3 linked regions of the Homo sapiens genome follow. The gene in region 3 interacts genetically with the main gene of each other region. Each region holds a gene or a part of one and is shown on either strand. Other genes may lie near its edges. The genes, in order: BNIP1, SEC22B and WDR7.

The links.
Region 1: changes in WDR7 (region 3) and BNIP1 together harm fitness more than expected from each alone (negative genetic interaction), as found in Homo sapiens cells (one large-scale study listed by BioGRID).
Region 2: changes in WDR7 (region 3) and SEC22B together harm fitness more than expected from each alone (negative genetic interaction), as found in Homo sapiens cells (one large-scale study listed by BioGRID).

What each region holds. Positions count from the first base shown.
Region 1 is NC_000005.10:173,151,031-173,154,685, reverse strand, and holds part of BNIP1 (vesicle transport protein SEC20), read right to left. Parts: intron 3,121-3,655; coding exon of another isoform or gene 2,992-3,120; intron 365-2,991; coding exon 273-364; intron 1-272. UniProt on the Homo sapiens protein: As part of a SNARE complex may be involved in endoplasmic reticulum membranes fusion and be required for the maintenance of endoplasmic reticulum organization. Also plays a role in apoptosis.
Region 2 is NC_000001.11:120,156,009-120,159,663, reverse strand, and holds part of SEC22B (vesicle-trafficking protein SEC22b), read left to right. Parts: intron 1-2,471; coding exon 2,472-2,626; 3' UTR 2,627-3,655. UniProt on the Homo sapiens protein: SNARE involved in targeting and fusion of ER-derived transport vesicles with the Golgi complex as well as Golgi-derived retrograde transport vesicles with the ER.
Region 3 is NC_000018.10:56,657,731-56,661,385, reverse strand, and holds part of WDR7 (WD repeat-containing protein 7), read right to left. Parts: intron 1-3,655.

The sequences.
Region 1 (3,655 bases), on a different chromosome or scaffold from region 3:
CCAGGCGTGATGGTGGGCGCCTGTAATCCCAGCTACTCAGGAGGCTGAGGCAGAAGAATTGCTTGAACTCGGGAGGCAGAGGTCACAGTGAGCCAAGATCAGGCCACTGCACTCCAGCCTGGGCAATAGAGCGAGACACCGTCTCTCAAAAAAAAAAAAAAGACACCATTAAGTCAGCATTAAAGCAGATCCATCAGGCAAACACACGTGCAAGGCTCACAGGCAACAAGAAGAGCCAGCAGAAGCCGCTGGCGGGGGCAGGCCCTGCCTACCTGAGCATCTGCTTTTTGTGATTCTCCACTTCCTGGAGTAGAAGTTGTTTCTCTGATTCTTTGTCTTGCTCTTTAGCCAACTGCTCCAGGTCCTTTGAGGAAAAATAATTCCATGTTAAAATGATTTCAAAAGTCAACATGAAAGCAGAAGAGCATTTCTATTTCTGCCAAGGGCATACAATAGCACTTGAAGCACCCTTTTAAAACAGAACACCTAGGAATGCTAGGTAACATATAACACACATCCTTTTAAATCTATAGCTAAGTCCACAAGGAAGTAAGGAAAACCCCTATGGCCCAAAAGTGGGAAGGGAACAAGAGCTGGAATAGTCAGCCTGGGAGTGATGCACGGCTGTCCTGGCGTCAGAGCTGCTGCTCCTGTCACCTAGGGCAGGCCCGAAAGGAAAAGAAAAACAATGACGAAATACAAGCACACTGATCCCCCACTTAGATATCATTAAAATATCAAACTGCTGTTCATTTCCAGATACTCACAATTTCTGTGCCTATTTAATTAAAGACGAGTAATAGGCAGTTTGAGCGCTTGAAGGTTTGAGAGCTCGTGCAGGGACAGAAAAATGAAGCCCTGAGCCATCTGAGGCTGAGGTTGAGAAGCTGAACTGAGATCACCACAAATCTAAAACCCACGAAAGGTTACAGACACAGGAAAATGGTATAAAAAAATGTCCATCTACCAGCACAGAGGGAAAACATAGATGCTTGCCTTTTTTTGCTATGAGTTCCAAATAGAGGGGTTAAAAAAAAACTCCCCTGAGAATTTATAACCAACCAGGGAGCTGCTCCTTCCACTGATCTAGGGTTCAATTTATCTTCCCTGAGTGGTTCGTGAAACTCCATGAAGAGAAATGAACATAAACAGTGTTCTCGGCCGGGCGCAGTGGCTCACGCCTGTAATCCCAGCACTTTGGGAGGCCGAGGCGGGGAGATCACGAGGTCAGGAGATCGAGACCATCCTGGCTAACATGGTGAAACCCCATCTCAACTGAAAATACAAAAAATTAGCCGGGCGTGGTGGCGGGCACCTGTAGTCCCAGCTACTCAGGAGGCTGAGGCAGGAGAATGGCGTGAACCCGGGAGGCAGAGCTTGCAGCAAGCCAAGACTGCGCCACTGCACTCCAGCCTGGGCGACAGAGAGAGACTGTCTCAAAAAAAAAAAAAATGTTGTCAGACTTGTGATCATCTCAGGAGACCTGGCGGGAAGCTAATGCAAAAACCTCTGTAGAGACTTGGCCTCGACCCAGCTGCACAAAGTCCCTCAGATAAGGTCTGCTAAGATGAGCGCTCACAGTCCAAAATAACCTAACACCAAGGAAATAACCCACTATAAGTTAGGGTCAGCAGACATACCCAGAAGTATTAAACCCCAAGAACTTCAGATAAAAGAACCATCAAGAGGGACTATAATTAAAGATAGCATTATACCAATCACATTTTTTGGTTTACAAATTAAAACAGGTTCTAGCTTCAATCACGCTATTGATCTGAAACATCAATGTATTTGCTCATTTATATACTAATTTACTGATTTACGTATCAATTTGCACATACTGGTTTGGAACAAGTTTGTGTATCCACCATTTCAATAGCACAGAGATGACTTTCAATTTATGCCTCCAAATATTGCTGAGGTAGAGAATAAAAGAAATAATCAACTGTGAATTAGAAAAGTTTTGCAAATGTCATCAATTATTTTCATAATTATTTGTTTAAAATCTGTATTCCCTATTAGAATGTAAATTCTATGGGCTGGGCCTGGTGGTTCACGCCTATAATTCCAGCACCTTGGGAGGCCAGGGCAGGCAGATTACGAGGTCAGGAGATCAAGACCATCCTGGCTAACACGGTGAAACCCCGTCTCCACTAAAAATACAAAAAATTAGCCAGGCGTGGTGGCGGGCGCCTGTAATCCCAGGTACTCGGGAGGCTGAGGCAGGAGAATGGCGTGAACCCGGGAAGTGGAGATTGCAGTGAGCCGAGATCGTGCCACTGCACTCCAGCCTGGGCAACAGAGTGAGACTCCGTCTCAAAAAAAAAAAAAAGAATGTAAATTCTATGAATAAGCAGAGCTGTATCTCACATTATTCACTACATATATTCCTTGTGCCTGGCACATACTGGGCACTGAGTCACTGAATGGAAGAATGAACGCATGGGAAAAGCGGAGGGATTAAAAAGGGGGAGAAATGTACAATTTACTCATGAAAGATTGCCTGGAAGTTCTTTCAAAGAGAACCAGTGATAGTTCTGGAGAAAGGAATGGCGGGGGAGAGCAGTCCTCAAATTCCAGTTTGAGAGCTATATGTACAAAGACAAACACACAGATATTTATACACAGTCAGTGCCCAAGATTCACCATGTGCAGAACACCCAGTTTTGAGGATATGAGGCCAGTTCTCTAGTATCACATGATCTTGTTGGAAATACACAAAAAAGACATTCAAATAAAAGCTAAAAATGGCAAACAAACAGGAATCTTGTATTTATTTCCAGATACAAAAAGAGTATGTAAATACTTAAGAAACGCAGATTAAAACTGGGATGGGGTTATTCATTTACTGGCCATGTGCTTATTAGGTCCTTCCTAGGTGCCATAATAAATATGTAAATGTACACGTATTGGTGAGGTCATTTTAATGAGTGAAGGAAATAAACACTGGGTGGGCACCCAGATGTTTAAAAAGAACATACAAATACTCACACTGAAGGTAACAGGTGTAGTTGGAGAGTTGAAGTCATGCTGAGTTGAAGAAAAGTCTGTCAGGGAATAAGTTAGCTTAAAAAAAAATGTGGAAGCAGTCCAAATAAATGCCCTTTGATAGAGAACTGGCTAAAAAAAAAAAAAAAAATGACAGTTATTTAGAAAAGAATGAGAGACCAGGTGTGGTGGCTCCTGCCTGTAATCCCAACACTTTGGAAGGCTGAGGCAGGCAATCACTTGAGTCCAGGAGTTCAAGTCCAGCCTGAGCAACATGGCAAAACCCTGTCTCTATAAAAACTACAAAAATTTGCTGGGTGTGGTGGCGCACGCCTGTAGTCCCAACTATTTGGGGGACTGAGGCAGGAGGAAAATCGCTTGAGCCTGGGAAATCAAGGCTGTGGTGAGCTGAGATTGTGCCACTGCACTCTGGCCTGGGTGACAGCCCAAGACCCTGTCTCAAAAAAAGAAAAAAAAAGAAAAATGAGGACAGTCTCTGATTACTGAAATGGAAAAATTTCCAATATACGTATAATAAAATTATACTTAACAGTATAAGTTTTGACCGGGCGCGGTGGCTCACGCCTGTAATCCCAGCACTTTGGGAGGCTGAGGCAGGCTGATCACAAAGTCAGGAGATCGAGACCAGCCTGGCTAACACGGTGAA
Region 2 (3,655 bases), on a different chromosome or scaffold from region 3:
AAACTCCTAAAGCACTTAATAACATAATGGTTTTAGCACATATTACATGTATGTGTGTTTACCTAATTTACCTTAAATATATTTATTAAATACCTCTTACCATATTAAATATATATTTAATATATATTAAATATATTTCCATATAACATAAGTATATATTTCATATATTTATATTAAAGTAGGCAAACATATTTGGATAATTAAATATTTTTATATAATTTCGTATATTTTTTTGAGACAGAGTCTTGTTCTGTTGCCCAGGCTGGAGTGCAATGGCACGATCTTGGCTCACTGCAACCACCATCTCCTGGGTTCAAGCGATCTTCCCACCTTATCCTCCTGAGTACCTGGGGCTACAGGCATGTGCCACCACGCCTGGCTAATTTTTGTATTTTCTTAGTAGAGATGGGGTTTTGCCATGTTGTTCCGGCTGGTCACAAACTCCAGGGCTCAAGCAATCCACTCACTTCAGCTTCCCAAAGTGCTGGGATTACAGGCATGAGCCACAACACCCAGCCCTTTATATAATTTTAAAAGTGTAGGTAATTAGGTAAAATTAGGTTAAAAGTATATGTATATTTACCTGATATTTAAATATTACCTAAGTGTTTAATGTGGACATGTAAGCTCTTTAAAGATAGTGCTTATGTATTTTATATCTGTTTCACATACTCCTTATATATCCCCCACAGAAATGGTCACAAATAGGTTCCTTAATAAGTATTTTTGAATTCAGCCATGCTATATATTCATTAGTAAGTGAGTTTTCTTTTATTATGAACTACAAACTTTAACCTTTTTTTGAGTAGTGAGCAGTTATTCATTTACCTTCACACTCTTTAAATACCAAATTTTGAGTGAGTGAGTGTGTAAGGTTTTGTCATACAGACTTGCAATTCCTATATGGGATAAAGTAGACTAGCACAGGAATTTTTCTTGTATCACTCATGCAAGACTCTAAATTCCTTAAAGGCAGGGATCATGTATATTTTGATCACTGTTGTATCCTCAGCACTTCACATGGTGCCTGTCACATAAATATTTGTTAAATGACTTCTCCAAGCAATAGCTTTGTCTTTATGTTATCCTGTATTTCAAAACGTTCATATATAAATTCTCTCAACTATGACTTGTTTCATAGGGTCTAATAATTGTTCCTCTGCTGAGTTATTCTCAGCAGATTTAGATTCATTTAGCAAATGTTTATTGAGCACTAACTATATACCAGGCCCTGTTCTGGGCATTCAGGATATAGCAGCAAACACAATAATTTAAAATCCCTGTCCAGTGAAGTGTATATTCTTGTAGGCTCTGTAAAAAGATGCCCTGTGCATTGTCATGGTTGTTTCTCAGTCCCTGACTCTTCTTCCGTGACTAGATGTTTTTCTTACTCATGTGATCAGTTGCTAATTCAGACGTGGCTGTCATGCCTGTGTTATTAAGTAACGCCATGTTTCCCAATCAAAACCAGTCTCTATTAAGCAACTCCAAATATTCCAAAAGCATTCTTTAAGGAAGAAACAACCGGATTGCAAAATAGTTTTTTCTGAAATTTCAAGAAGTGAAAAGTTTGATCAGAATTTATTATGTCAAATGGAGAGTTTGTGTTTATTATTAAAATATGCCTTATATTTTAATATGGTCTAGCTTGTGTCTATCTGGCTATTTCTCTAAGTGTTTAGTTAACTGTTATAAGAAGATAACAACATTACAAATGTCCTTGGGGGTGAAAAAACTTGCCAGAAAATACTAAAAAGCTTAATTTACTTGCGTTTTTTTTTGTAGTACTTATTGTATTTTAGTTACAACTTTCCTATGTCTATTGAAATATAAATCCTGATAGCTTTAACTTCATAGTAGTCTCTACTATGTGGAGAATCTTAGAAATGTTAGCAGTCATCATTGAAGTATAGCTTAAGACTGTGTTTGGTTAATTGAATTTTCTGGTTATCTGAGTTTGTTTTACATGGGTTATCATTATCGTTTTTCAAAATATAAGAGAATATGATTCAGACCATTAGAAGATTATGAAGATAATAATTATTAACATGTAATAATTATTATAATTTATCATGTGCAGGCATTGTTGCTCACTTTACAGGCAATCTCATGTACATACAACTTTATGACATAGTTACTGTTATTATCCCCAATTATAGATGAAGAAACTAGGTTTTAAATAGGTTACATGACTTGACCAATGTCACATAACTTGTACAGGTGATATCTGAACCAAAGAGTCTGAGGCCAGAACCTGCACTTCTAACCACCTTACTATATAGCCTCAAAAATTCAGACATCATCTGATCAGCATCATCAGTTAATTAGTATATGCAATGTTAGCCTTAAAATAAAAATGATGATTTAAGATTCATGGTTGTTGCAGTGCTGCTCATTTTGGTTTGCCTTAATACTTTCGGTAAAATACTTCCAGGGACTAATTAATGTTTTCCTTTTTTCCTCTTTGACAGCATTGGATTCAAAGGCTAACAATTTGTCCAGTCTGTCCAAGAAATACCGCCAGGATGCGAAGTACTTGAACATGCGTTCCACTTATGCCAAACTTGCAGCAGTAGCTGTATTTTTCATCATGTTAATAGTGTATGTCCGATTCTGGTGGCTGTGAAATAATGAATACAGTCACTGGTAAGGGAGAACCTAGAACCCAGTAGGTGTATATTTTCAGGAAACTGAGCTCACAGAGATGTGTATTAGAATCCAAGTGGAACTTCTGCCTCTAAAGACCTTGCAAGAAAAGAGATGCCCTGAAAATGAAAGGTTGCACCTCATTTAATGAAGCTTAACCCTATGTAGAAAGTCTCTTTCGGGGGCAGAGGCTTTCTCTGGGTGCCAAGCCATATATATTAGGGAATAGTAGATTGTTAATTTCGTTTTTTCCCTCCCAGTGCATTTTAAAAACAGCACTGGCTGGGGCATTCTCATTCTCTGATGGAGCCATCAATGAGATTTAACTTAGTCAACCTGTGCTAGCAACATTCTGAAATTCCTTCAAAGAAGGCAGTCCTTTGGGAAGGTGTTTTTTTTTTTTTTTTTTTTTTTGACTCTAATCAACATTCCTTTTGTTGGTGACATTTGTGATTTTCAGTAATCTGAGTTTTTGATGGCCTTTTAAACAAGACTCCAGTATGTGAAGGTTAATTGCTGTGCTCCACAGATCTTGTCTATTGGCCCCTGTAGAAAGTTAACCTTTGTTGTTTTCCTTTTATAATTTGCTTATTGCACAATTGCTTTAGGGTAAGTGAATTATATTAAGATGCCTTGAAATTATAGCACTCCTTGATTAAGAAGCTAAAATGTTTCTCTCATTTACTCCTTAAACAAAAGACTTAAATTAGTTTGGGTCATTATTACTTTTATTTTGCAGCATTTGGTTTGTTATTAGCGTAAGAGCAAGTATAGGATATGGAGAGGCCCCTGGCTTCATGAGAACAAAGGCAGGCCCAGGTTATAATTACAGCTTTCTCCTGCCCCTTCTTTACTTTCTCTACCACAGTTTTCTCCACTGTTTGTTTTCCTCTTGCCACAATTTGCTAACATTTAAAAAATTTTCCTGCACCCAGTAGTTTCATATCCTGTAGACATCCTCTTAGGACATTCTCAAATTTCAAAATAAAAAATATTCATCTATGTAGTT
Region 3 (3,655 bases):
GTGATATTATAATGAATGAACTCTTCTGCTTATGCTGTATCCATCACCAACCTACAGCAATTTCAAGAGTTACTGATTAAGCTAAAAGCCCATTATGCCCACCAAGACCTTACTTTTTAAAGGAAATTCCATTTGGTTGAACCAACTTCGACTTTCTCCTGCCACCCACCTCTAATCTCATTTGCATCTCCAGTCATTCCAATTTCTTCCCTTAGGTTGCCATCAAAAGTCTAAACTGAGCACTGAACTTTCTCGTTGTATATAAATTGAATTAAACAGAAAAAGAAGAAACAAACATGCTTCCCCAAATTTGAAGCTGAATTGTCACATTAGTCTTGGAATCACTAAAATAAGATGGGCAACTGTGAAGGTATGAAAGTCACACTAACTAGAGAGGAACCCAGCTCTCCATTTCCATTTTAAACTCTGAGGAAATATGTGATGTCTCAAGTTAAACTTCTCATTTGTAACATTACCCTCCTCCTGCTCTGCCTGTCACAAAAACTGCCCTTGACAAGGTCACCAATGACCTCCCCACTGTTAAATCCATTATCAAGTTCTAACCCTTATCTTACTTGACCTACCAGCAATTTGACATAGTTCATATTCCGTCTTTGAAATAAATACTTCTTTACCTGGCCTCAAAGTCTTCACTTTTTCCTGACTTTCCTTCTTCTTCTCTAGCTTTAGTCTCCTTTCTTTCTTTTCTTTCTTTTTTTTTTTTTTTAACCTTTAAATATTGGCATTCCCACAACTTAGTCCTTAGACTTCTCTTCTCTGGCAACACTCCCTCCCTCAATGATCTCATCAAGCCTCATTGCTTTAAACCATCTATAGGTTGAGTATCCTTTATCTGAAACACTTGGGATCAGAAGTGTTTTAGATTTTGGATTTTTTTCAAATTTGGGGATATTTGTATTATACTTACAGGTTGAGCATCTCTAATCTGAAAAATCTAAAATGCAAAATGCTCCAATGAGCATTTCTTTGGAGTGTCATGTTTATGCTCAAGAGTTTTGGATTTTGGAGCATTTTGGATTGCAGATTTTGACAGTTCCCCAGTTTATTGTGTGGGATGCTTTTCTGAAATCCAAATCAGTATGTCCAGCTTCCTACTCAACATCTCCTTTTGGATAGCTAATAAGTTTCTCAAACTTGGCATGTCCAAAAGTGAGCCCCTGATCATTCCTCAATGGTGCCCCTCCCACAGTCTACCCATCTTAGTTATTGGCAACTCCAGTTTTATAGCTACACAGACCAAAATCCTAGAATCATCTTTAGTTACTCTATTACTCTCTCACACATACACATTCCACATCCCAATCCATCAGTAAACTCCACTGGCTATACCTTCAAATCATATCCAGAATCCTGCAACATCTCAACACTTTCACTACAACCACCCTATTCTCAATCAGCATCTTCCATCAGGGATAACACAACAGCCCTCTAACTGGTCTCCCTGTTTCCATCTTTGCTCCCCTGCAGTCTCAACACAGCATATAGAGTGACACTATTAAAAAAAAAAATCATGCTGTGATCACATCTCAAAATCTTCCAATGGCTTCCTGTCTCACACATAGCAAAAGCCAACTCTACATACAACTGCCTATCCTATATGAGTGAGGTGGTTGTTCTCTCCCTTGCTTACTCTTTTCCATCTGCTCTGATTCATTGGTGTTGCTCAAAGATACTAAACAGAATCTTACCTCAGAACAGTGTCCCCCACCCCAGATTCCTTCTGGCACACTCCTTTGCCCTCTTCAAATCTCTATAAAATATTACCTTTTTAGTGAAGAGTTTCCTGACCATCATAAATTGCAAAATCTACCACTCAAACTAAACACTTACAATCATTTAACATACCATATGTTTTATTTATTTATCATCTGCCTCTCCTGGTGTATGTTCTATGATGGTAAAGATCTGTGTTTGGTTTCTTCTCTATTGTATTCCCAGTGCCTAAAATTCCTTCCACATAGAAGGAATCCAAATACTTGAATAAATAAACAAACTAGTGAATGAAATATGTTTGCGTTGGTTTAAGTAAAGTTGCACCCATCAGCAAATTAAAGTATATCCCGATTTTATATGTTTTGGATTTCACAGGGCAGTTTCTTGTCAACTAGTTCTTCTATAATAATGTCAACAATTAATACAAGCCTCCTTAATCAAAATGTCATTAACATATTGTTTTTTTCCCCAGCTACAGGTTTTACCTACGCTCCTGCCTCTTTTAGTCTATCGTGACATATACACAGCAAAATATATCTTAGGGCCTATGAAGCAAATTAGCTGACATAATCACTACTACAGTCACTAAGGCCTAGTAATTAATCACAACACTGTTTCTTAAAAGTAAGTACAGGGGGCCGGGCGCGGTGGCTCAAGCCTATAATCCCAGCACTTTGGGAGGCCAAAGCTGGCAGATCACAAGATCAGGAGTTCAAGACCAGCCTGGCCAACATGGTGAAACCCCATCTCTACTAAAAAAAAAATACAAAAATTAGCTGGGCACAGTGGTGCACGCCTGTAGTCCCAGCTACTCAGGAGGCTGGGGCAGGAGAATCGCTTGAACCCAGGAAGTGGAGGTTGCAGTGAGCCAAGATCATGCCACTGCACTCCAGTCTGAGCAACAGAGTGAGACTCTGTCGTTAAAAAAAAGTAAGTAAGTACAGTGATATTTCATTCGTGTGAATTTTTTGCTCCAACTAATGGAAGTTTATACTGTTTATTTGTATTTGAAACATTTAGAAAAAAGAAGAGCCTTTAAGGAAGATAGCTTAAATGTGAAATAAACTTGAATGTGAAAACAGAAGGTAACTGGCTCACTCTATCAGTCTGTTATCACTGACATATACCAACTACCAACATTCAGAGAGAAACATGATGTGCAAAAAACTATCTTCAGTGAGCTTGTAGGGTCATAAATTACAACTGCTAAGCTGAATGGGAGACTGCATTTTCAAAGTCATGTATTTCCAGGCTGGGCGCAGTGGCTCATGACTAATTCCAGTACTTTGGGAGGCCGAGGCAGGCAGATCACTTGAGGTCAGGAGTTTGAGACCAGCCAGGCCAACATGGTGAAACCCTGTCTCTAATAAAAATACAAAAATTAGTTGGGTGTGGTGGTGCACACCTGTAATCCCAGCTACTTGGGAGGCTGAGGCAGAAAAATTGCTTGAACCGGGGAGGCAGAGGTTGCAGTGAGCCGAGATCATACCACTGCACTCTAGCCTGGGCGACAGAGCGAGATTCTGTGTCAAAAACAAAACAAAACAAAAAAACAAAGTCACATATCTCCAGAAATGTTATATTTTAAAGAGCCTACAGAATAACGCTTAGCACTTCAGAAATCTTCCCTCCCCTAAACTGACCAGTGCCCTAACATTCGTTGTTCCAACATTTTATGGCTCCCACTAACTCAAGTAATCAACAGCCAAAAAAAAAAACCCCTGTAATTTCATTAAACGTCACCAACATAGTTTGAAAAAAAATCCAATTTTATTTAAAATAGTAAATACTTCATGAATGTAATATATATGTTCCTTAATAGAAAGGAAGTAAAAATTTCCTTGGACTCACAAGGACTTTCTGAATGCAGTCATGATGTAGGATTTCTTCTTCCAACATAATTGTTTGTGTTCTTTTGTAT